Regions from separate parts of the Homo sapiens genome. Here regions 1, 2 and 3 are each linked to region 4. The links come from fine-mapping of genetic effects on gene expression. A gene starts in region 4. Each other region holds a variant in brackets. All regions are shown on one strand. Distances are between the middles of the regions.

Region 1 (5,913 bases), 26 kb after region 4:
TCAACCATCCTTTCCTGCAGCCTTGAGACACTACTCAGTGCAGCACCCCTCCCAGTCTAGAATAAGCACACTCATCATCAATCTCTCTCATTTTCTGTCTTATCTCCATTCCATCTACATACATTTTTTGTTTGTTTTTGCCAATGTTTTTAAATAAGCAACTGTACAAGCACAACAATGACAACAAAAACCTTCCTCTCCCCAGTGTCGTAGTGAGCAAGGAATATATTTAACTTCAAATAAAAGACAAAAACAAATGCTGGATAAAGCTGACAGAAAGAAATGCAACTGTAGGTGCTCTGGCAATATAGAAATGATACAACTAAGAAAAATAGAAGAAAAGGAAAAAGAAGGTATTCTGCAGAATGATTTTACTGACTGCTCGTCTGTAATGCCTGGGAGTCAAAGGATACTGTTTATAGAAATGTAGGCATACTTAATGGCATCAGGGGAAACAAAGTTAATATTATTATATCAAATTGGGAGATGAAAGATCACATAGGGAAGACAAGAAAGAGTTAATACCATTGTTCTTAGTTTAGAGACATTAGCTACTGTCTAAAGAAAGAGATGATTTTATGAAGTTACATAAGGTAGCCATCAGAATAAAAATTTAACTCTTCCAAATATCACAACATCAAAACAAAATCAATAAAAACAAACAAGGCAGCAAAAGAAGATACGTGCATATAGATCATAGCATAACATGCTGTAACCAAAATATAACCAAACAGAATTTACCAATAAAAGTAAGTGGGCTTGACTCTCTTATTAGAGGAAAAAAATATTGTCAGATTAAATCAAAAAGGAAAACTCAGTTCTATGCTGGATATAACATAAAGTGTTTCAGAAAGTTTAAAAATAAAAGTACAGGCAATGAATAAAAGGATCTTCATGCGTTACAGAGTATAAAACAGTGAGTAAACACATCATACGTTTTCTCTTTTTACACTTAAATGGCTGGAGATGTTACACCACTAGTATGAATTTACTTCAGATATGTAACGGATACACTTTTATGTGATTAGAAACAGAAATGATAACAGTTAAGGATAAAACAACATCTGCATTGACGCTAGGAAGAAAGAGCCATTGTTGGGTACATAGTGATCACATTACCATGGAGCAATCTGTTCCCAACTGAAATTTCCTTGCCCTTCTACTGAAATCGTGTACGATTCTGCAAACATAATGTTTACTTCCCACAAATCAGCCATTAGCTCTGCTATTGTTGTCCACACAGAATAAGCATCAGACCTAGATTTAGCTGTTGTATCATTAAGAGTCTTATTTGGCCCTTTCCAGAGGCTGTTATTTCTATTATATTTTGGATAATTTGTCTATTTCCAGACAAATAATTTTTCCAGAATGTGATGAGTAGATACACTTTGATCCATATGAAAAGACCCTTTGGTAGAGATCCAGGGATTGAGTTTATTTTTAATTACTATAGCATCTTGGTCAGGTTGAGAAACAGATCACCTTTATAATTCCCTGGCATGTGAGCAGGGCTAGACTTAGTGTGAAAATGCTTGAAAGTTTATAGTTTTTTAGAAATTTTATTTACTTTGTGTCTCTTTGTCAAAATAAAATTAATGCTGAAAAGCTATATTAAATGAATTTCTTTGAGATGGTCTCTTCCCCCTTCTTCTAATGAGAGGATATCCACAGATATGTCAGGAGCTTGCTTTACCTAGAAACGTGTTGAGGGCCACAGGTTTGGGTTCACCTAGGAACATTTAGGGACACCTTCCCAAGTTGTTGTTGAAGAGTGGGGTAAATGTAAGATAGAATTAGGCTCACAGAGGCCTGATGAGAGCATCATGTCACCCCAGAAACACAGCATATACCTAGGAGAACTGTTCTCAGTATCAATGTCTTAAGCACTGTAAGATTGACTATAGACCAAGACAGTAACTACATATATGTATAGTTATATATATTAACTATATATATACTTAATAAAATCAGTTAATATATACACATATATTTATTTATTTATTAACTTATTTTTATTTTTATCTTGAGACAGCGTCTTGCTCTGTCACCTAGGCTGGAGTGCAGTAGTGCAATTACGGCTCACTGCAGCCTTGACCTCTGGGGCTGAAGCTCTCTTCCTGCCTCAGCCTCCTAAAGTGCTAGGATTACAGGTGTGAGCCACCTTACCTGGCCCAGGGCAATAACTATGCAATGCTTATATAATTTGGAGCAAAAAAATATTTGAAATATGTATGCATTGCTTTTTAACCTTTTCTATTGATTTACTTTATTAAATACTGAATAGAAACAATATATTTATAAAATATTTATAATATATATATAGAATAAGCACACAATGAACACTTGTGTCTCCAGTCTTGGTTTAAGAAATTAAGCCAAAAGTAATCATAAGTGCTTATGATTACTTTTGAAGTCACCTGTACAACTTTTGCTGACTACATCCCCTTCTTCAACACTCTAATGATGGCCACTGTGAGCACTGTGTATATTGAATTGTGTTTTATTTTAATACTGTGTGCACTACATTGTTTTTCCTAGCTGCATGCTATTGCATTTAGTGAGCATAATGAATTATATCAATATAATTCACTTTTGTCATTTCATTGTTTCAGCTTTTCTGTACTAATTATTGCCAATATATTTCTACTGGCATAAAAACAGACACACAGGACAATGGAGCAGAATGGAGATCTCAGACATAAATCTACACATTTACAAACAACTCATCTCTGACAAAGGCATCAAGAACATACACTGGGCAAAGAACAGTCTTTTCAATAAATAATCCTGGGAAAACTGAATAACTAAATGAAGAAGGATAAAATTAAACCCCTCTTACCATATACAAAAATCAAATCGAATAAAAATAGATTAAAGACTTGAATCTAAGACCTGAAACTATGAAGTTACTAAAAGAAAGCATAGGAGAAATGCTCCAGGACATTGGTCCGGGCAGATTTTTTTGCGTAAGACCTCAGAAGCACAGGCAACAAAGGCAAAAATAGACAATGGGATTATATCAAGCTAAAAAGCCTCAAGCAAAGGAAATAATCAACAAAGTGAAGTGCCAACCACAGAATGGGACAAAATATTTTCAAACTATCCATCTGATAAAGGAGTAACAACTGCAATATATAAAAAGCTCAAACAACTCAATAATAATCAAAAAATCTGATTGAAAAATGGGCTACTGAAGAGGCTGAGGTAGGAGGATTTCTTAATCCCAGGAGTTTGAGGTTACAGTGAGCTATGATTAAGCCACTGCCCTTTATCTTGGGTGACACAGCAAGACCTTGCTTCTAAAAAAATTGTTAAAAATATATAAATAGATACAATTTTTT[A/T]AAAAAATGGGCAAAAGATCTGAACAGATACTTCTCAAAAGAAGACATTCAAAAGGCCAATAGGAAGATGAAAAAATGTTCAATATCACTAATCATCAAGCAAATGCAAATCAAAACCACAATGCAATATCAGCTCATGTTGGTTGAAATGGCTTGTATCAAAAAGACAGGCAATAACAGATGCTGGCAAAGATGTGGAGAAAGGGGAACACTAGTACACTGTTGGTGGGAATTTACATTAATAAAGCCACTATGGAGAACTGTATGGAGGTTCCTCAAAAAAGTAAAACTAGAGCTACCATGTGGTCCAGCAATTTCACTACTGGATATATATCCAAAATAAAGGAAATCAATGTATCAAAGACATCTCTACATGCCCATGTTTATTGCAGCACTATTCACAATAGCCAAAATATGGAATCAACATAAGTGGTCATCAACAAACGAACAGATTTTAAAAGTAATATATATACATCATGGACTACTACTCAGACACAAAGAAGAATGAAATTCTGTCATTTGCAGCAACATAAGTGGTGCTGGCCATTTCGCTTAACGTAATGAACATAGGCCATTATGTTAAATGGAATGAGCTAAGCACAGAAAGGCAAATATCGCATGTTGTCACTCATATGTGGGCGGTGAAAAAGTGGATCTCATGAAGATAGAAAGTAAATTGGTGGTTGCTAGAGGCCAGCAAGGGGAGTGGGAAGAGGAGATGAAGAAAAGCAAACATAAATGTATTTATCACCACTAAACTGGCCTCTAAAAATGTACAGATGGTAAATTATATATATATACATTTTTATCTCAATAAAAAAATTAAAAAAATTCTGTTGTGTGTTTATAGGGCATATGTACAAGACTTTCTCTAGGGTTGTATCAGTTTTCTTTTTTTTTATTATTATACTTTAAGTTTTAGGGTACATGTGCACAACGTGCAGGTTTCTTACATATGTATACATGTACCATGTTGGTGTGCTGCACCCAGTAACTCATCATTTCACATTAGGTATATCTCCTAATGCTATCCCTCCCTCCTCCCTCCATGCCACAACAGGCCCCAGCGTGTGATGTTCCCCTTCCTGTGTCCATGTGTTCTCATTGTTCAATTCCCACCTATGAGTGAGAACGTGCGGTGTTTGGTTTTTTGTCCTTGTGATAGTTTGCTGAGAATGATGGTTTCCAGTTTCATCCATGTCCCTACAAAGGACATGAATTCATCATTTTTTATGGCAGCATAGTATTCCATGGTGTATATATGCCACATTTTCTTAATCCAGTCTATCGTTATTGGACATTTGGGTTGGTTCCAAGTCTTTACTATTGTGAATAGTGCCGCAATAAACATACGTGTGCATGTGTCTTTATAGCAGCATGATTTATAATCCTTTGGGTATATACCCAGTAATGGGATGGCTGGGTCAAATGGTATTTCTAGTTCTAGATCCCTGAAGAATTGCCACACTGACTTCCACAATGGTTGTGTAAAAATGTTCCTATTTCTCCACATCCTCTCCAGCACCTGTTGTTTCCTGACTTTTTAATGATCTACTCATCTGACAAAGGGCTAATATCCAGAATCTAAAATGAACTCAAACAAATTTACGAGAAAAAAGCAAACAACCCCATTAACAAGTGGGCGAAGGATATGAACAGACACTTCTCAAAAGAAGACATGTATGCAGCCAAAAGACACATGAAAAAATGCTCATCATCACTGGCCATCAGAGAAATGCAAATCAAAACCACAATGAGATACCATCTCACACCAGTTAGAATGGGTTGTATCAGTTTTCTATTCCTGCTATAAAAATTTACTACAAACTTAGTGGCTTAAAAGAACACATTTTTGTAAGCTGTTAGCCTGTTTTAAAACACACACACAAACTTATTATCTTAGAGTTGTTCTGGTTAGAAATCTGGTATGGCTCTCATTGAACTAACATCAAGATGTTGGCAGGCTGCATTTCTTTCTGAAGGCTCTAAGAGAGAATCTGGGTTGTTGGCAGAATTCAGTTCCTTGTGGTTGTAGGATTGAGATCCTCGGTTTCTTCCTGGTTGTAAACTTTGGGTCATTCCCAGCTTCTAAAGGTCACTGGCTTTCCTTGGCTTGTGGCCCCCTTCCACTGTTTTAAAAGCCAGCAATAGCAGGCTACATCTTTCTCATACTGCCATCTGTCTGAATCTCTGCATCCAGAAAATATTCTCTGCTCTCAAGGAATTATGAGATTAGATTGGACTCACCAAGATAATTCAAGGTAATTTCCCCATTTCAATGCCCTTAATGGTAATCACATCTGCAAAGCCCCTTTTAGCATATAAGGTAGCATGTTCACCTTATCTGAAGACTGGGATGTGGCTGTCTTTGGTGGGGGGCAGATGCCTAACCCAAAGATACACAACTTGCAGATATACAACTAGTTCATGGAGATTAAACATTTTCAAATCTACAAGAAAATGTTTTCTAAAATGAGCATCTCTTGTTAGATTTTCACCAGTACTGTATCAGAATTATATTTACTTCATAATGTTGCCAATACTGACATCAGATATTTAATTTTCTTGTCAG
Region 2 (5,913 bases), 46 kb before region 4:
AAATCTTTATGAAGAAAACTTTCTAATAATTAGACCTTTCATAAAGTGAAATGAGCCTCCTCATGAAGTAGTAAGCTTCTCATCACTAAAAGATTCTGAGACTGGATAACTATTTATCTGAGATTCTATAAAAAGGATTATGTAGAAGGTTGAACTAGATAAGCTCTAAAATTCCCTTTAAGATTCTACAGTTTGAAGATTTTGTTAGAAAGAGTTCTTTTTTAACTAGCCTTTACCATTTTCCCTCACAGCAAAGCAATAAACAATATGAAATTTATTTTTCTAATATGTATTATACCTATTATTAAATGTACAATCTTACCCAAATTCCCTAGAGTGTACATATTTGCCTTTCACCCATCTAATGGCATTAGTTTAAAGCCAACTTTAGGTATGCTGGTTTTGGTCACAGTGATGTATTTGGCGCCTGTTGTTTCCTTACCTATAGAACAGCTTTCCTGGTAAACCAAGAGGATCGATGAATGCTCTTTCCAGGAGCATCAGTTGGTCATTCATCATTCTCACTGCAATGGGACTTCGAGAAGAACATATACATAATTATAACGCAAACCGCAGAATCATGCTTCAAAAATAATATTAAATAAAAACAAGGCTTGGGAAAATATATTTCTAAAATTGATCAATTTTTAACAAAATGAATATTAACACAGTAATGCTTTACATGGTGAGCCACAAACAGCAGAGTCATCTTTCTAATATTTACAGTCAGCAGAGAGACCTATTGGAAAATCGTTTGTTATATTTTTTTACATCACACACCAATCAAAAGGGACTCAAAGACATTCTATACTTCTAGGAGGACAGCCAGGCCTCCTGGAAAGGCAGACAAAGTGAGCTATCAAGTTATTCCTGATAAGTCATTCGGTTCTACTGCTGAAAAAAGGAGCAGATAACAGGCTGGACAACAAAGAGTGAATGAAGGTTTCAGAAGCCTGTAAGGAGGGTAAGAGATAGCTGCACATAATGGATAGGGAATCCCTTGTCACACTCAGACTATCCCTTTGGGGAGTTGAGTAAGTTCCCTGGGCTCCCCTACAATCCAAAGGAGAATGAGGTCCCTTAAAACTACTGATAATAGCTTTCTTCCAATATGGGAAGTAGCAAAGTTTATTCTGATTACATCTGAAAAAATAAATGTGACATGGACACATCTGTGGATAAATTTATGCTTGTTACATGGTATTTACTTTGAATGTACTTTGAAACTATTTTCAATGTGAAAGTGGCAAGAAATTAAATAAAATGCAAAAAAAATTATCCATGAAAAAAGAATTTCTAAACTGGTACACAGGAGTACTGAACAAAGAACTAGTAAAATATATTACAAACGCACTTAAACTCATAAAGCTATGAATTTACAGCTGTAGTCAGAATTTTCATCATGCAGACTCCTAATGACAGGTACCTTTGGCCCTTGTCTCTTTGGGATGAGTTTTTAGTCTACCATTCAGAGCAGTGCTCCCCAAACTTTACTGTTAGTATAAATCATTGAAGGGCGGGGTGGGGGTGGTAGTTAAAATGCAAAATTCTAATTCAGCATGTCTTGGTTGGTGTCTGATATTTTGCCTTTCTAACAAGTTCTCAGGTACTACTGCTATTGCTGATTTGCAGACTATAATTTGAATAGTAGTGATTTAGAGGTTAATGCTAATATGAGTGAAACAGTTCATTCTAGTAACCAGATTGCTTTTTTTTTTTTTTTTAAAAAAAAAGGGATTTGAAACTTACTTGTTAAGATCAACTTGTATAAGTCGTTTATGAAAATCTGAAGCAGCCTCTGAGAAGTTTTTCACAGCAGAAAATAAGGAGTCTTTTTTAAAAATAGAAAAGAAGAAGAGAAATTAGCTCATATTTCAGAGGTTCGCTTTCCCACCCTCCCCATTCCAGATTGATATGACCACATAGATGTCGAAGCCATTTTTCTACTGAGTCTTCTTGCAGATCCATGAAAATTAGTAGAAAATATAACAAAGTAATATTGTTTGAAAACAAAAAATGGTAACATTGTTTCTTAAAGGAAATGACTTTCAAAAATCTAGGACACAAATAATTCCTTAACCCATAGTTTACCAGAAACCCAGAATTCATTTTTTTATTAATTCATTCATTCATTGGGACAACAACTGTATGCTAGACACTGGATACAGCTATGCATAGGATATGATTCTGTAATTATTACAGGGCAAAAAAAAATACCAATTCTTGTTTTCAAATAGTGCATTTAAGATCTTGTTCAACAGGCAACCTGTGACAAACTGATATAACCAGATACTGAGAAAGAGGATCAGATTTGATCTGGTCAAACTCTTCTTTAATTCACAATGCTTCTGAGGAAAGTGATTAGGTTCTCAGTACAGTCATACCTCAGTATCAGTGAGGCCTGGGTACCAGAATCCCCTGCAGATAACCATATTCCATGGAAGCAACTCCCTTATATAAAATGGCATAGTATTTGCCTGTTACCTACACACATCCTCCCCTATACTTTAAGTCATCTCTAGATTACTTATAATGCCTAATACAATGCCTATATATAACTTCATGTGGATTCAATGTAGTGCTCAGAGCACAACAAATTCAAATTCAAGTTTTGCTTTTTTGAAACTTAATGGGTTTTTTTTTCTGAATATTTTTGGCTTGCAGTTGGTTGAATACATGGATGCAGAACTCACCAATATAGAGAGGTGACTATATTATATTTTTATTACAACAATTTATTATTTTCCATATTTTCTACACAGGACTTTAAACATACATTATTGATTTGTTGCTTGCATCAATCCTGTGGTGCAAGCAAATCAGGAGATACGATATTCATTTTATAGATAAAGCACTTACAGCTCAGGATTTCTATTAGGTCACACCTAA[T/C]GGAAAGAATTTCTATTTCTATTACCTAATTTCTATTAGGTCTGACCTAATAGAAATCCTGAGCTCTAAATGCTTTAGCTAGTAAGTGGTACATTCAGTATAAGTATATTCAGTATTTTTAAAAACCTTCTTAGTCCCAGATTTTAGTCCTAGATTTTAGTCCTAGTCTTTTAGTCCTAGATTTTCCTTAACTTTTAATTGTTGTTTTAAGCCAAGTTCAAACCAAAGAATGTAATAAGAGATAGAATAGAAACTATGAGGAAAGAATGCTGAAAACAGAATTTTAAATTTCAAATGCAGGACAGAAGTCAAGATAGATAACTGAAACGTGTCCTGGGATTTAGTAACACATGTCAATGACGACTTTTGCAAGAGCAGTTTTACTAGAGTAGAAAGGACATAAGACAGCACAGTGGATTGGCTAGTGAGAGGTAAAAAACTATAGACAGGGAGTGTAGATTATGTATTCATTCATTCATTCATTCATTCATTCATCAATTATACCTTCATTCCTACACTAACACATTTTCTCAGGAACTGTTTCTGCCTGGCACTAAATGAAGAATTTTGATTGTGAAGAAAGTGGGACACATCAGGCAGAAGAAATGTTTTTGAAATAGAAAAGCTATAAGAATAATTAATCTAATGGATAGTCACCAATAGTAATGGTGATTTTTGAAAGTATGACAGGGAAAGGAATTAACAGATCAAACCAGGCCTCTAAGAAGGTAAGTAGGTAGAAGAATTAACCTTGTCTAAAGAGAGCCCTTCCACTCTAACTGTGTGGTTTCTGTCTCTTAATTGGACCCTGACTTATAAAAACTGATAAAAGATCATTCACCAAAAGGAAATCAGGGAATTTAGGAAGACAACTGGATGCTGAATAGCCACAGAACTACCAATGTCCATTTTGCTGTAGGCTCTGCTTATTTCTCTGGTTTTATCTCTCCTTATTTCCCCCATCACTGCAGAGATACTCCAATTGTATTGATATAAACACATTTTATTTGCTTCATTTTTTTTCTAGACCATAGTATTTGCTATTATTACTAATCCTGTATATAATATTATATAAAGATTACTAATCCTTTATATAATAATATTCAGAAGTCATTACTATTCCATACCCATTTTCTGTGTTTTTATAGTACTCTCTACATAGCCCCATAGTAACCTATTATCTGTATATTGCTTTATTCCCCACATGAGACTTTAAGCTTTCTTAGGACTATGACCATGCCTTGTACACATTTATATCTCCCAGGTAATAACATAGTACTTGGTACACAGTAGAAACTCAGGGCATATTTGATAATTTGGGTATATACTAAAAATAGGTGCCCCCAGAATAATAAAAGACAATGTTTGTAATAAAACAGTAATAGGTAATATTTAATGAGCACTAAGTGCTACCCACCACAGCTTCTATATATTACCAAACTGAATCTCCACAATGATCTTTGAAACATGATATGTTCTTTTTTATCTTTTAATTGTATGAAAGCTAACACATAGAGAAGTTAAGTAACTTTCCCAAGGTCACATAACGAAGAACTGGTAAAGCTAGTATCTGAACCAGGCAAACCACTTCCAAACTCAATCCTCAATGCTACTACATACACTGCATTATGAGTCATCCTTGCTGTATAGGAGATGCACAATGCAGAAGAGCAACCACTAAACAGTCATTAATAAAAGGAAAGTATACTTATAACCATGGAAAAAATGTTTCATATAGACAAACACTAAAAGATATATGCAGTAATAATCATTTTGTTGACAATAATTAAAAATACGTATGTAATAGTATTTGTGGCTTTCTCAATCTTTTGCAAATAATGTTACATTTTTCTAATATTGTTTCTATAACAGTAAATTTTTTTTTTTTTTTGAGAAGGAGCCTTGCTCTGTCGCCCAGGCTGGAGTGCAGTGGCGCGATCTCAGCTCACTGCAAGCTCTGCCTCCCAGGTTCACGCCATTCTCCTGCCTCAGCCTCCCGAGTAGCTGAGACTACAGGCGCCCACCACCATGCCCAGCTAGTTTTTTGTATTTTCAGTAGAGACGCGGTTTCACCATAATAGCCAGAATGGTCTCGATCTCCTGACCTCATCATCTGCCCGCCTCAGCCTCCCAAAGTGCTGGGATTACAGGCGTGAGCCACCGCACCCAGCCAGTAAAAATGTTTTTAAAGGCCATAATACAAGAAAAATGTTTACCATCCCAATGTTTGTGGTAATAACTCAGCCATAATGGATTCATTCTATACATGCCAGATTAAATCAGATTCTTTAATAGGTGTTTGTTTTAAGTTTTTGTGTAGAAGTCAAAATAAGTAAGGCAAATATGTATTCTAGGATGAAACAATATGCATTGATCATCATAGGAGATAATATCTTAAAGCTCTAACTTAAAGACTGTAAAATATCTGCCCAACTATTTCTTACCAAATGATACTCCATGGTCTGTCAATTGTTGATCATGTTTCTTAGATAGATTATAGATACTTGCTGCATAGTTTTTCAAAGCTTCTGCATAGTCTTGAATATTAAAAGGAATGATTTTAGAATCCACAAGCTCATATACCAGTGCTCCTCGTAATTGAGCCACAGAAAGTTGTTTTTTAAATGTGGGGTCATAAAATTTCTCTACCAATTCAAATGTCTCATAAATTGTGTGGTACACTGGGTAGCTGCTGTACTTATCTGTTTTCTGAAAAAAAAATGGAGAGGCAAGTATAAATAAACATTAAATATTCAAGTTATAATATTTTTATGTAAGCATAAAAATAACTATAGAAAAAATAACAACCAGCCAGTCATGGTGGCTCACATCTGTAATCCTAGCACTTTGGGAAGCCAAGGCAGGTGGATTGCCTGAGCTCAGGAGTTCAAGACCAGCCTGGGCAACATGGAGAAACCCTGTCTCTACTAAAAATACAAAAAAAAAAAAAAAAAAAAAAAAAAAAAAAAAAAAAACAAGAAAAAGAAAAAATACAACCATATAACACCCTGAGTTTTACCACAA
Region 3 (5,913 bases), 98 kb before region 4:
GTAAAATAAGTCCCTGGAATTTTTAAACAAGCATACAGTTAGATAAGCGTGCGTATTTTAAGGGAGTGTCTGGTGGGAAAGAGAGGAGAGTTTCAAAGTACATTTCAAGGCTATATTTTAAGACTAAGAAAAAAATGTTTCTACAGTCTATTTCAGGGTTACATCTTAACAGTAGAGAGAAAGGAGAAAAAAGTTTTAAAATGAATTTCATACATACTGAACTTTCACAACCTGTATATAAGTAATGAACTGAAACACTGTTTTGGAGCAGGCTGATAGAATCTCCCCAAAAGACTCCTTTCAGGCTATAATCATCTACAGTCCTCAGTAAGGCTTGTGAATAAAACTAACTTTAATTCTTTAAAAGCTTTATTTTTCTTTCTTTAGTCAACAATGTCTTTGGTTTCTCTGGATTTCAGTTTGTCATGCCAGCCCGTGCAGCAGTTTTTAGAAAGCTCACTTTGTTTGTTTATTCATTTAGCTAAACTTAGTAGAGCTTTTCTATCTATGGCAAGCTCAGTCTTAATCCAGTGACCTCAAAGAGGAAAGACTGATTAACAATTCAACTAGGAAGAATTCTTGTCTTTAAAATTTTAGTTGATATATAAGCTTCTTTGCTTCTACACCTATGCAATGTCTTTAAAAATATAATCTTATGATGTATTTCTTTTTATAGTTGTTGAAATAGAAGAAAAAATAGCTTGCCACTACCTACTATATTTTAATACAAAATAAAATTCTCTATGATCCTATCTTGCTTCTTTTTTTTGGAGTGGATCATTCTACTTAATCTGTCAAAGGCTAAGGGGTGTTCTAATATAACCCATTATTATTGTATTTCTATCTGTGTTATATATTTATACACATTTTTGGCTCATTTTGAATATTATATTATTGAGTATATAACGTTTAATGAGACGGTAAAACATTTTTATCTTGGCTACTGATAGTATAATGCTGCTCTTTTCAGGCTTCCATTGTCAATTGCTACATACTCTGTCTTTTCTCTACAGCTTCTGCAAGGTCTCTTTTGCTTTCGCTACTTTACAATTTTAAAAATATTGTAATTTTTTTCTTTCTGCTTGAGATTCATTGAGATTCCTGACTCTGTACTTACTCATCTATCATTTCTGGAAAATTCTTACCAATTATCTTCTTACATACTATCTCTATTTTACTCTGCCCTGTTCCTTCTCTGATTACACAAATATCTGACTTTCTTAATCTCCTCTTGTATTTACCTTTTTTCTGTATTTTCAATTTCTTTTTCTCTCTCTTTTGCATTCTATGTATTTTTTTCAGTTCTATATTCCAGTTCAAAAATCCTTCTTTTGGGTGGGTCTATCAGCTATTAAGCTTATTCATAAACTTTTAACTATATATATTTTTATTTCTGGCTGTTTCTGATTCTTTTTCTTTTTCATTTTTGAAGTTTGTTGTTCTTACTTACGTTGTCAGTCCTTTTTATTTCTTTAAATCTATTGTATTTGATAAATTTCAACCCTTTAGCAGTTTAATTCCACTATTGTTTTGTTAGCTTTCATTCATGGTATTTTATACTTTTTTTTTTTTTCATTGAGAGCTCACATTTCCTGCAACTTTATCTATTGGTATCTTTTGAGGCCTAGCTTGAAGTAGGTGCATGTAGAGAGAATGTATATTGCTTTTATCAGGCAATTTAAAAAGAGCACTTCACACTAAATTTTTACTTTAGAGTTTTAAAAATATTCTTAACAATCTCTAGAGTGTGAATCTTGACTACCAACCTGAGTAAAGGTTGGCTTTTTTCCTTCTTTACTTATACCTGAGATGTGAAGCAAGCAATGCTCCTGGTAGTCTTCTATAGAGGATGAAGGAAAAGAAAGAGAAAGAGCAATGTAGGTTTATATTTCATTTTTATAGCAGGGATATAGCCCTTTGCTTTCCCAGCTTAATAAAGGAAGGGAGGGCAAATTTTCTCAACAGTTCCACCTCAGACAGATCCAGGAATGTTTCTCTTTTCTCTTGCTCTTGGTGACAACTTGAGCACAAGATCATTTCAAGATGACAGCCATCCTCAATGTTTCAGCTTTGGAGCTAAAGATTGCTCTTTCTCATAGTTTTTGTCCCCTGAGTATTTCTGATGTTCTTGCATTGGTGAATGTATAAAAAGTTTTAAAGAATTGTATCCCATGTTTTAAATTGTTTTCCATGGGACAGTTGATCAGGGTACCTAGTCTGCAAAAGTACTGAATGCAGAAGCTAGCAACATATATGACATGACAGTTTTGAAAAAGTCCACAAGTATCCAAAGAGGAAACACTGATAACCTATAAACAAAATTTACTCTGGCTTCCAGCTTCTCTTTTGCAATACCAAACATCCGAAAATAGCAGTTATACCTAAAGAAGAATTTTGACAGAAAGTGATTTTGACCCAAAATTTGATGTCCAGGTAAGTTGTCATTCAAAAGAGACACCTTAGAACTAAAAGAATTCAGAAACAACATCACTCTAAAGTTAAGAAACTGATATGAGTAAATTATGGTATGTTGACAGCGGTTATTAAAGCAAATTAAACATATGACTAAGTAGAAATATTGCAGATATGGTCACAAAACTGAATATAAATTACAAAAATTATTTCCAAAGGGGATATATAACATGAAAGCTATTAGTTTAATATTAATAATGTGATTTCAATTCTCCTCATTAATAAAATCTAAAAAGAGGAAAGAGCTATCAGGAGAAATATAACATGAATTTCTATTAATTAACCTGTAACTGGGAAACCAGTATTATATGCATTAATTAAATTTAATCCTCATGGAAACTCAAACAGGTATTAATTTTCTCTTGCTCCTGTACTAAATTACCTAAATTATAGTGGCTTGAAAACAGACAAATGTATTATTTTACAACTCTGTATGTCAGAAGTCCAACACAGGTCTCACTAGGCTAAAACAAATGTGTCAAAAGGACTATGTTCCTTTTTGGAAGTTAGAGAGGAAAGTGTGTTTCCTTCCCTTTCTAGCTTCTAGAGGCTACCCACCATTATTGGCTTGTAAACTGCTTTCTCCATATTCAAAGTGAGCAACAGTGAGTCGAGTCCTTCTCACATCACATCACCCTAACCTCTTCTTGTATAGCCTCTCCTACTTTTTAGGAAGCTTGAGATTACATTGAGCCCATTTGGATGTCCAGGAAAATCTCTATTTTAATGTCTACTAATTAGCAATCTTAATTCTATCTGCAACCTTACATCCCCTTTGCCATGTAACATAATATTCAGAGTTCTAGGAATTAAGGTATACAAATTCTTGGGTAAACCTTATTCTACACATCACATCTGGCCCTCTGGCTGCCAGATTAATGTTACTCCAAATGTTTGCTCCATCTCAAGGTCCTCAAAATTTCTGAACCCATTATAGCATCAATTCAAATCCTCAGATCTCATCCAAATCTCATCATCTAAATAATCTAAATTAGGTGTGGGTGAGATTCTGGATATGATCTACCTGGTAGCACAATTTTCTTTATCTATGGACCAATAAAACTAAAGAAGTAGACAATATTGAATTCATTTTACAAATAAGACATCGAAAGTAAAATACCTTTCCTAAAACCACATCCTTATTAAGTGTTGGAGAGTCTAATCTGTTTTCAACTCAGAAGTT[C/A]ATAATATTTTTAATCATTTCACTATCTAGAGAACACAACCTCCTAAATTCTTCATTTTACAACTGGGGAGTTTAGAGGGTATTAATTCACCAGGAAATAAATAAATCAGATATTGGAAAAGGCTTTAAATATTTATATCACTCAGAAGTAGTTTAAGTCAAGGACAGATATGGATAAGACCAAACTGATGGAAACCATTTTCAGTTGCTTTGGAGAACCTTATGATACTGGTATTGTGGTAGGCTAAATAATGCCTCACCCTCACAAGATGCCCACATACTAATACTTGAAATCTATAAATATTATACTTAGTTTTGGAAGTATAATTTTGCAAAATAGACTAGTTGATGATCTTATTCTTTTATGACTTTGACTGTGTCATCCTATTTCTGTTTGGACTACAGTGTTTTGGAAATGAAATCATGTGTTAATCTTACAGAGAATCCCTTATATGTGGAGACCCATTTTTCTCTTACTGCTTTCAAAATTCTCTCAGTATTTTTGGCTTTTGACAATTTTATTATTTTGTATATGTTCATCTCTTTGAGTTTGTCTTACTGGGGGTTCCTAAATTTTTCAGATGTGTACATTAATGTTTTAACTACATTTGAGAAGTTTTTAGTTATTATACCTTCAAGTACTGTTTCTTCCCCTTTTCCCATATTCTCTTCTTCTGTGACTCTAATATGTGTATGCTGGTAAGCATGATACTGTTCAATTAGTCTCTGAGACTTTATGTATCTTTATTTATTCAGTTTTTTTCCTGTTCCTTAGACTAGATGATGTAAACTGACCTATATTCAAATTCTCTTTTTCTACCAGGACTAATCTTCTATTGAATCCTTATAGTAAATTTTTAGTTATTATACTTTTCAATTTGAGAATTTTTACTTTTTATTTCTTCATTAGTAATATTTGCTGAGACATCAGTCTCTTTGTTTTTTAGAATTAGTTTCTTCTATTTCTTTGAACATATTTATAATAATTGATTTAAAGTCTTTACCTATTACGTCCAATATCTACCTCAGGGACAGTTTATATTGCATGCTTTTTTTTCTTCCTGTATATGAGCCATTCTTCTTATTTACAAGACATAATTTTTTATTGAAAACTGGATATTTTATATAATATAATGTGACAACTCTAGAAATCAGATTATCTCCTCCCAGCCTTTCTTTTGATTGCCATTTATTGTTGTTGTTGTTGTTGTTATTATTTATCTCCTGGACTAATTCTGTAAACTCTTTATTCCCTGTTATTTGTGGCCACTGAGTCCTCTGTACAGTTAGCTTTGTAGTTAAGCTCGTGATTGGACAGAGATTTCCTTATATACCCTGAGTGAATAAGCTGTATATTATTTGTTGAGAGGCTCTTTGTATGTATTGACAGGCTCTCAATGTTTTGATAGTTTACAATTCTGCATTAGTCTTCCCTTCCTGCTTCAAAGGACCTAAAGTTCAAGTAGAGATGAGAGGATGGAACTTTCTCAGATCATTCTTTTACATGGACACAGCCCTACTCATGGATGTGGCTTTCTTCACATTCCTTAGGAATATGTCAGTGTTGTTCAAAGATTCTGGTGTTATCTCACTCATAAACTCTTCCATTTACATTTTTATTGGCCAGCTTCTTATTGGCCTCAACTCGTATAGTCTCCTCAGGCAGCTGCCATGTTAAACAATCACTTTTGATTGTTTTCAGCAAATGTCCTAGAAACAAGATTTTTCCCAATCAACAAGCTTTCAGTAAGTCAAAACGATCACAAGCCTTAAAAATTGAGCTTTTCCAAGGAGCTGTCAGATGGGTCAATGCTTAGACAATGCCATTCTGCCTCCTCTTGTAGCTTCTAGAATTCCACTTTACATACCTATTGTTGAGAGGCTGCTGGATTTTATACCTACCATTTAGGTATAAAGAAGAGAATGGAAATAGGGAAATTAAAATGTCACACAATTTGTTGTTCTTACCAATATTTAGCACTTTTGTTGAATAAGGGCTCTTTGGATTATTGCATGCCTTCAGTTAATTTTGAGATTTCTGGAAAAATCACATTAATGGAAAACTCCTTTCAATTATTCCTCTTTGCCCTAAGGATAAAAGCCTTTTAATCATCCTTACAGCTGCCTCTCAGGCTGCCTGTGTTGTTGGGCCTCTGTCTACCTTTCCAGCCTCAGATGGTGTTATAGTTTAGATATTCGCCCCCATCCAAATCTCATGTTGAAATATAATCCCCAGTCTTGAAGGTGAGGCCTGGTGG
Region 4 (5,913 bases):
CACATTTATAGGGTATATGTGATATCTTGATACAAGCATACAATAAGTAATGATCAAATCAGAGTAGTTAGGATATCTATCACCTCAAACATTTATCATTTCTTTGAGTTTGGAACATTTCAAATCCACTCTAGTTATTTTGAAATATACAATAAATTATTGTTAACTATAGTTGCCCTATTGTGCTATGTAATACTAGATCTTATTCCTTCTATCTAACTGTATTTTTGTACCCATTGAACCAACCCCTCAGTATTGTCTGCCCTCCTCACTACCCTTCTAGTTTCTGGTAACCATCATTCTATTCTCTGTCTCCATGAGATCAATTTTTTTTTAGCTCCCACATATGAGTTAGATCATGCAATATGTGTCTTTCTGTGCCTGGCTTATTTCACTTAATATAATGACATTTAGTTCCATTCATTTTGCTACAAATGATAGGATTTCTTTCTTTTTTATGCTGAGTAATAATCCATCCTGTATATACACCATAATATTTGTTGATGGAAGTTGATCATCAGGTTGATTTGGTATCTTGGCTATTGTGAATATTGCTGTGGTAAATATCAGAGTGCACATATCTCTTTGGAATACTGATTTCCTTATTTTGAGGTAGAAATGCAAAATGATGCAACCACTTTTCACTTATCTTAGGCATTTTCTTAAAAAGTTAAACTTATGCTTATCATCAAACTCAACCATTTCAAGAGAAATAAACCACATATCCACAGAAAGACTTGTAAACATCTGTTCATAGCAGCTTTATTCACAATAGTCAAAAACTATAATCAACCCAAATTTCCATCAATTATACATTGCAATATATCCATACAATGGAATTCTAGTCTGCAATAAAAATAATGAACTACTAATGCATGCAACAATCTAGATGAATCTCAAAATCATTATTCTGAGTAAAAGAAGCTAGATACAAAAGAACATATACTATATGATTCCATTTAAATAAGATTCTAGAAAATGCAAATGAATCTCCAGTGATATAAAATTGGTTAGTGATTGCCCAGTGACAGAGATGGAGGGGGATGGGGAATAAACTGCAAAGGGCATAATGGAATATTTTTGTAGCATGATGGAGGAGGTGGTTTGTTCAGCATAGCATACGTCTGTCATAACTCTCAAATTGTAGGCTTTATAGGGATGCAGTTTATTTTATGTAAATTATACTTCACTAAAGCTGATTTTAAAAAATAACACCCATTTGAAAGAGTCTGAATACAGAAATAAATACCATGGCCATTGTTCTTAAGGAGTTTATGATCACTCCCCCAATTTCCACTGTTTTTCATGGTTAGAAGCTGGAGGAATGGCAATGATTCTTTTTGGTTTCATTTTGTCTTATTTGTAAAAAACAAATTTATACCTGCAAGATGGGATAAAGGTTTAACTTTTGGCAGACAGAATCAGACACTTTGATCACTTTTCCACTAAATCACTTAGTCAACCATCATCTAACTTTCCCTGACAGAATATGGTATCTAAGAAAATTGCTGATTAAAACCCAGGCACTGATGAACAAAGAATAACATTCAGTTAGATCCAAAGTTACATGAAGTTGAAACATCTCTCAATAAGCCAACCAGATACTTTTTGTTACATAAAGTTAGGGAAGAAAGACCTACTTTTTCACCCCAAGACTGGTGTAAAGAGACATTAAAAAAAAAAAAAAAGTTGATGACTAATATGTAATTTCACACAGAGAAGACTGTCCTCATGCATATAACCAGGTATAATATGCTTCTCACTGTGATATTTTAAACATGATTTTTAAGATCAAATACGTAAAATAAACTTACCGAAGAAATGATTTGATGTTTTCAGCTTTCATTTCGGATACCAGTTTCCACCGTATACTTTGATGATAGCGCACAGAAGTGGTCGTTTCTTTGAGAGGCTTAATAAACCAGCCTAAGGAAAAAAAATACACAAACATGCACACATACACACAAAATCACTTTGACTTTATTAAAACTAGAAGCCACCCCTCTGTCCTTCCCCCCAAAAAGCCTTTATCTGACAAGTAGATCATGGTGAGCTTTAAAAAATAATGTTTATATTAAATGCAGAAAACCTGTAAATTCTGATATGTAATATAATTTTTAGATGCTTAAAAGGAGTTTTATTTAAGAGAAGCTCTTTCATTTTCTCACGTTATGCATGAAGGCATGGCTTTTGTTGTTCTTCCCTGGATCTCTAGTCCCTGACACATAGGGAACATTCCACAAATATTTATTTACGTATAGAGCAGGGTTTTGTTTTGCTTTGTTTCGTTTTGCTTTGTTTTTAATGCTGCCCGTATTAGTTGAAAGTTTTGACTCACTAATGTTGCTTGGAAATAAAACGATTTTTTTTCATCCCTGCAGACAGTGACAGCTGTAGGTTGTCTTTAGTGAACTCAGTGAACATTTAATAAATTTGAATTTCAAGCACACTTTATCTATTAGCAAGCCCAAAATACATTCCATCTGGTTTCTAGTTTTGCTGAAATGTGCAGAGTTTATCATATCTAGCCCAGCCGGCCAGGGCTAGCGCACAGCCCAATCCCTTCCAGCTCCAGGATTTCTCCCTTTATCTCTGCAGAGAATCACGAGCCCCGGAGTCGGGGTAGAGTGTTTTGTTCACTTACCCACCATAAATCCCATCAGGAAAGATGCCAGCGCAGCAGCCAAGCACATCCAAAGGTACAGACGGCCCCTGGATTCCGCCATGGCTTCTTGAGGACCGAGCTTGGGGCGCCTGCTACATTCGCGAGCTTCGGGGCTGCAGAGAAACAGAGAGCGCGCTGGCAGGAGGCTGTGAGCTCTGGGTGGCCTCCGCTGACCTTCGCAAGGCCACGCCTCCGCCCTACCCGCTGGGGACCTGTGGTCCCCAGGGGCCCTCGATGGGGGAAAGGAAGCCCTGCAGAGGGAGGAGACATTCTTCCTGTTGGCGGGCAACTTCCATTCTGTGGATCCCGCAGTAACCCGGACATAGTAGGTGGCGGGAGCTGCTGAAAACGTCCCTAATTTTTTCCTAAAGAACTCTACTGCTGTTTGCCATGCCCATCCCCCAAAATGCCCAGTTTCGGCTCAGAAGTGAATTTAAGTATTGCTTTTCCTGATCTATTGGTTATTCTTCTTCCAGATTCTCTGCTGTAATTTCCCACTCGTCAGACTCGGAAATGATTTCTGGTCCTGGGTGCTCCGCTGTTAAAGCTGTTAACATCACTAATACCGCAATCACTGTCAGCATCAAAATCGATGGGATTGCGTTTTTTTGTTCCCCTTTACTTAAACAAAACTCCACATTTCTGTAATTCTGTTTCCACTCATTTAACTGAGGTTTTTACCTACCTCACTGGAATGTTTTAGGTTCACATTAGTAAAAGTAATCACTGAAAGGACCTTGCACTGCCAGTAGTTACTGAGAGTCTGTTCTTAATGCTAAAGCTCAGACACCAATTTCCCAAAATATGGTGCTTTGACATGCTAAACCGAAGAAGCCAGGGGGTCTCTCTGACCATACCCCTCTCTTCCAGCTCCTCTCTCTCAATCCTTTGTCTCTCCCATAGCACAGAATAAAGCTGTTCTCTAAAGTTCCCTTATCTGCCTAAAGTCCAGAACTACTAAAGGCAAAAACAAACAAACAAAAAAAAAAAGAGTTTCTTTCCTGAGTTTTCATTAACCGAACTAATATCTCAGGAAGAAGGACTGCAGTCTGTCAATACAACTGGCAGCCTTCTGTTACAAACTCTCGTCTGCCCTGTAGGGCCAACAGACTTTGTCCCAGGCCATTGCATATTCTTCAAGCCCATTGAATTTCCCTAAAATTCATTTACTACCCTCTTAAAATTATACACACATTCTCATCTTCCTTTCCTCTAAAAAGATGGGTATATTATCATCTGTACCTCATTGGTTATTGGGTAATCATTCTACTACGATTCCCTTATGCTATGTTATTCATAAATTTGTAAGCCTTTTTTTTTTCTAATAGTCTGCCTTTTGTGAGTTGATTTTCCAGCAAAACTTCAGAGGGTGAAGGGGAAGCTTTCCATTGACCCCTACATTAGCAATGGTCCCTGTCATTCCCCTGTCCTCACCATGCTACATTCATGAAGCATTTCTCTTTAAAGATGGGTTTGCAAAATAGTGGCCATTGTAAATAGCCTTCATCCAACCATCTCATCTCAGAGAAAAATTTTAGGAATTTATGATTGGCTTCACGTATCTAACCAAAAGTAGTTTTTTCAGCCAAAGCAAAACTGCTATGTTGATTTCAAAGATGGTAGTATATCTAGGATAAACTTCACAGCATTGTCTGCAGCCCTGATAGCTTTAGGTAATGCACCTTTGCTCCTAACAAGTGACTGGAAGAGTGAAATTTATTTTTCTGGGACATAACTTTTTTTTGTCCTTGTATTTCAATGGCTATCAATTGAACATAATTGTTGATAGGTATGCCTAATAACTTATTTCTTGAAACTTTTGTAGCATACCTGGTACTTAACTTTGAAGCAAACCTCCTTAATGAACTGTTGATTTCTAAATGTTTGCATGCAATTTAAGTCCCAACTAACTTCAGCTTTTTCAGCTACTAGCCTGTTAGACATTCCTTGACTGACTCCTCCAGTGTTTTTTATTTTAGAGAGAAACATCTTTCAAAAAACATTTTCATAACAAAGTGAGTTTGTTCCCCCTTATATGCATACACACAACACCAAATATAGGGAATTAGAATAGAATTATTCAAAAGGTTCAATATCCAGTGAAGTAACTAAACCCCTCAAATATGGCTTAAGAAACATTTTCCAAGAGCACTCAGAATTATTTTTATGTGTGACATTATGAAATAATACTGGGATTTTAATAACTCTCCAGTGTTTAACAGGTGACACACAAAGGTCTCAAACAATATCAAATGTTATTTTTGTACATATAAACATTTTGGGTATTGATTGTGTAATTTGTCAATTTTTAGACTCTTGGCTTTTTCTATTTGCTACCCATTGGACCATTCACTGTTGACTACATAGCCCTCAAGAGGCAGATCAAAATTATCTCCAGGAAAAGATTTACTGAAGAAAGAGAAGGTAGAAACTAATGAATAAAGTTGCTAAGCTATTTATTAAATTTATTTTTTCTTGCTCATTTTGTGTTTTTTATTGCTAATTGAAGTTTGAGTAATAGAATAAATCAATGCATTATTTAACACAGTTTGCCAGTTTGAATAATCTCCCTAAATTAAAATTAGATTAAAGAGTTCCAAGAATGAGCAATGTTACCTCAAATATGACTGTCGTCTCTGTAGGCGGCATCTGCAATCTTGAAAAGCCATTGTAAAAAGCCCAGTTAGCTGGCTCAACAAGTCTTTGGACTTTTGTCAATATAGACACTGCAAGCATTCAAAATTCTATGTTAATTAAGTTTGTAACAGAAGGCTGCTATCAAAAAGTAATTGCTAATTATTACCATCTTGGCAAATACTTGTACTTTGCAAAGCACACTTAACAAAGCAACACTGTTGACGTAGGGCAATCCTTTTCAATTTCTCCATCAAAGCTAATAGTATATAAAAACTTTGAGTATTGAAAACCAGTCTCTCAATGAAGCTATTTGACACATTTGACCTGCTCATGATTCAGTGAGCCTCTAACATAACAAAACTCACCACTTCCTCCATTTAAGTTAAATTGCTCTTATCTAAGCATTTTTTCCTCCTCTTCTCCATCATAGCAGAAGCAGTTTTGTAACCCTGAAGCTCAAGTTCCTTCAAACAGGTTATGGCAATGTTTGAAAACAAAGTGTCATATATGTACTAATAAAGCAGTATATATAAATTTCACTTGCAGAATTAAGCTTTAATTATTAAGCTTTAATAAAAAAGAATAATGTTTAACTTGATGATAAAGTGGTG

Alleles and levels. Positions count from the first base shown, and alleles are read on the strand shown. Sizes are in standard deviations (SD) of each study's normalised expression. Not every link is listed here.
With allele C in place of A in region 3, the expression in aorta of the gene that starts at base 2,822 in region 4 is lower (large effect, 1.3 SD a copy in GTEx).

Evidence for each region. PIP is the estimated chance that this variant, and not a neighbour inherited with it, causes the effect.
Region 1: its variant is fine-mapped to the expression of NAALAD2 in lung (TOPMed, PIP above 0.99).
Region 2: its variant is fine-mapped to the expression of NAALAD2 in lung (TOPMed, PIP above 0.99). The same link has a PIP of 0.9 or more in testis.
Region 3: its variant is fine-mapped to the expression of NAALAD2 in aorta (GTEx, PIP 0.97).

Annotation. Positions count from the first base shown.
Region 1 is chr11:90,105,383-90,111,295 of GRCh38, reverse strand. No RefSeq gene overlaps it. Among named protein-coding and RNA genes, the nearest start is that of UBTFL1, 22 kb to the right of the region's middle. The variant A/T (reference allele first, on the strand shown) is at 3,342.
Region 2 is chr11:90,177,538-90,183,450 of GRCh38, reverse strand. NAALAD2 (N-acetylated alpha-linked acidic dipeptidase 2) reads right to left here. Exons shown (of 19, transcript NM_005467.4): 16 at 5,334-5,598; 17 at 1,750-1,831; 18 at 443-535. Among named protein-coding and RNA genes, the nearest start is that of CHORDC1, 43 kb to the left of the region's middle. The variant T/C (reference allele first, on the strand shown) is at 2,890.
Region 3 is chr11:90,229,263-90,235,175 of GRCh38, reverse strand. It overlaps LOC124902812 (a long non-coding RNA gene), which reads right to left. Exons shown (of 2, transcript XR_007062978.1): 2 at 1-13. Among named protein-coding and RNA genes, the nearest start is that of CHORDC1, 9.2 kb to the right of the region's middle. The variant C/A (reference allele first, on the strand shown) is at 3,656.
Region 4 is chr11:90,131,572-90,137,484 of GRCh38, reverse strand. It overlaps NAALAD2 (N-acetylated alpha-linked acidic dipeptidase 2), which reads right to left and starts at 2,822. Exons shown (of 19, transcript NM_005467.4): 1 at 2,645-2,822; 2 at 1,815-1,926. The coding sequence starts at 2,726. RefSeq lists an enhancer at 2,215-2,918.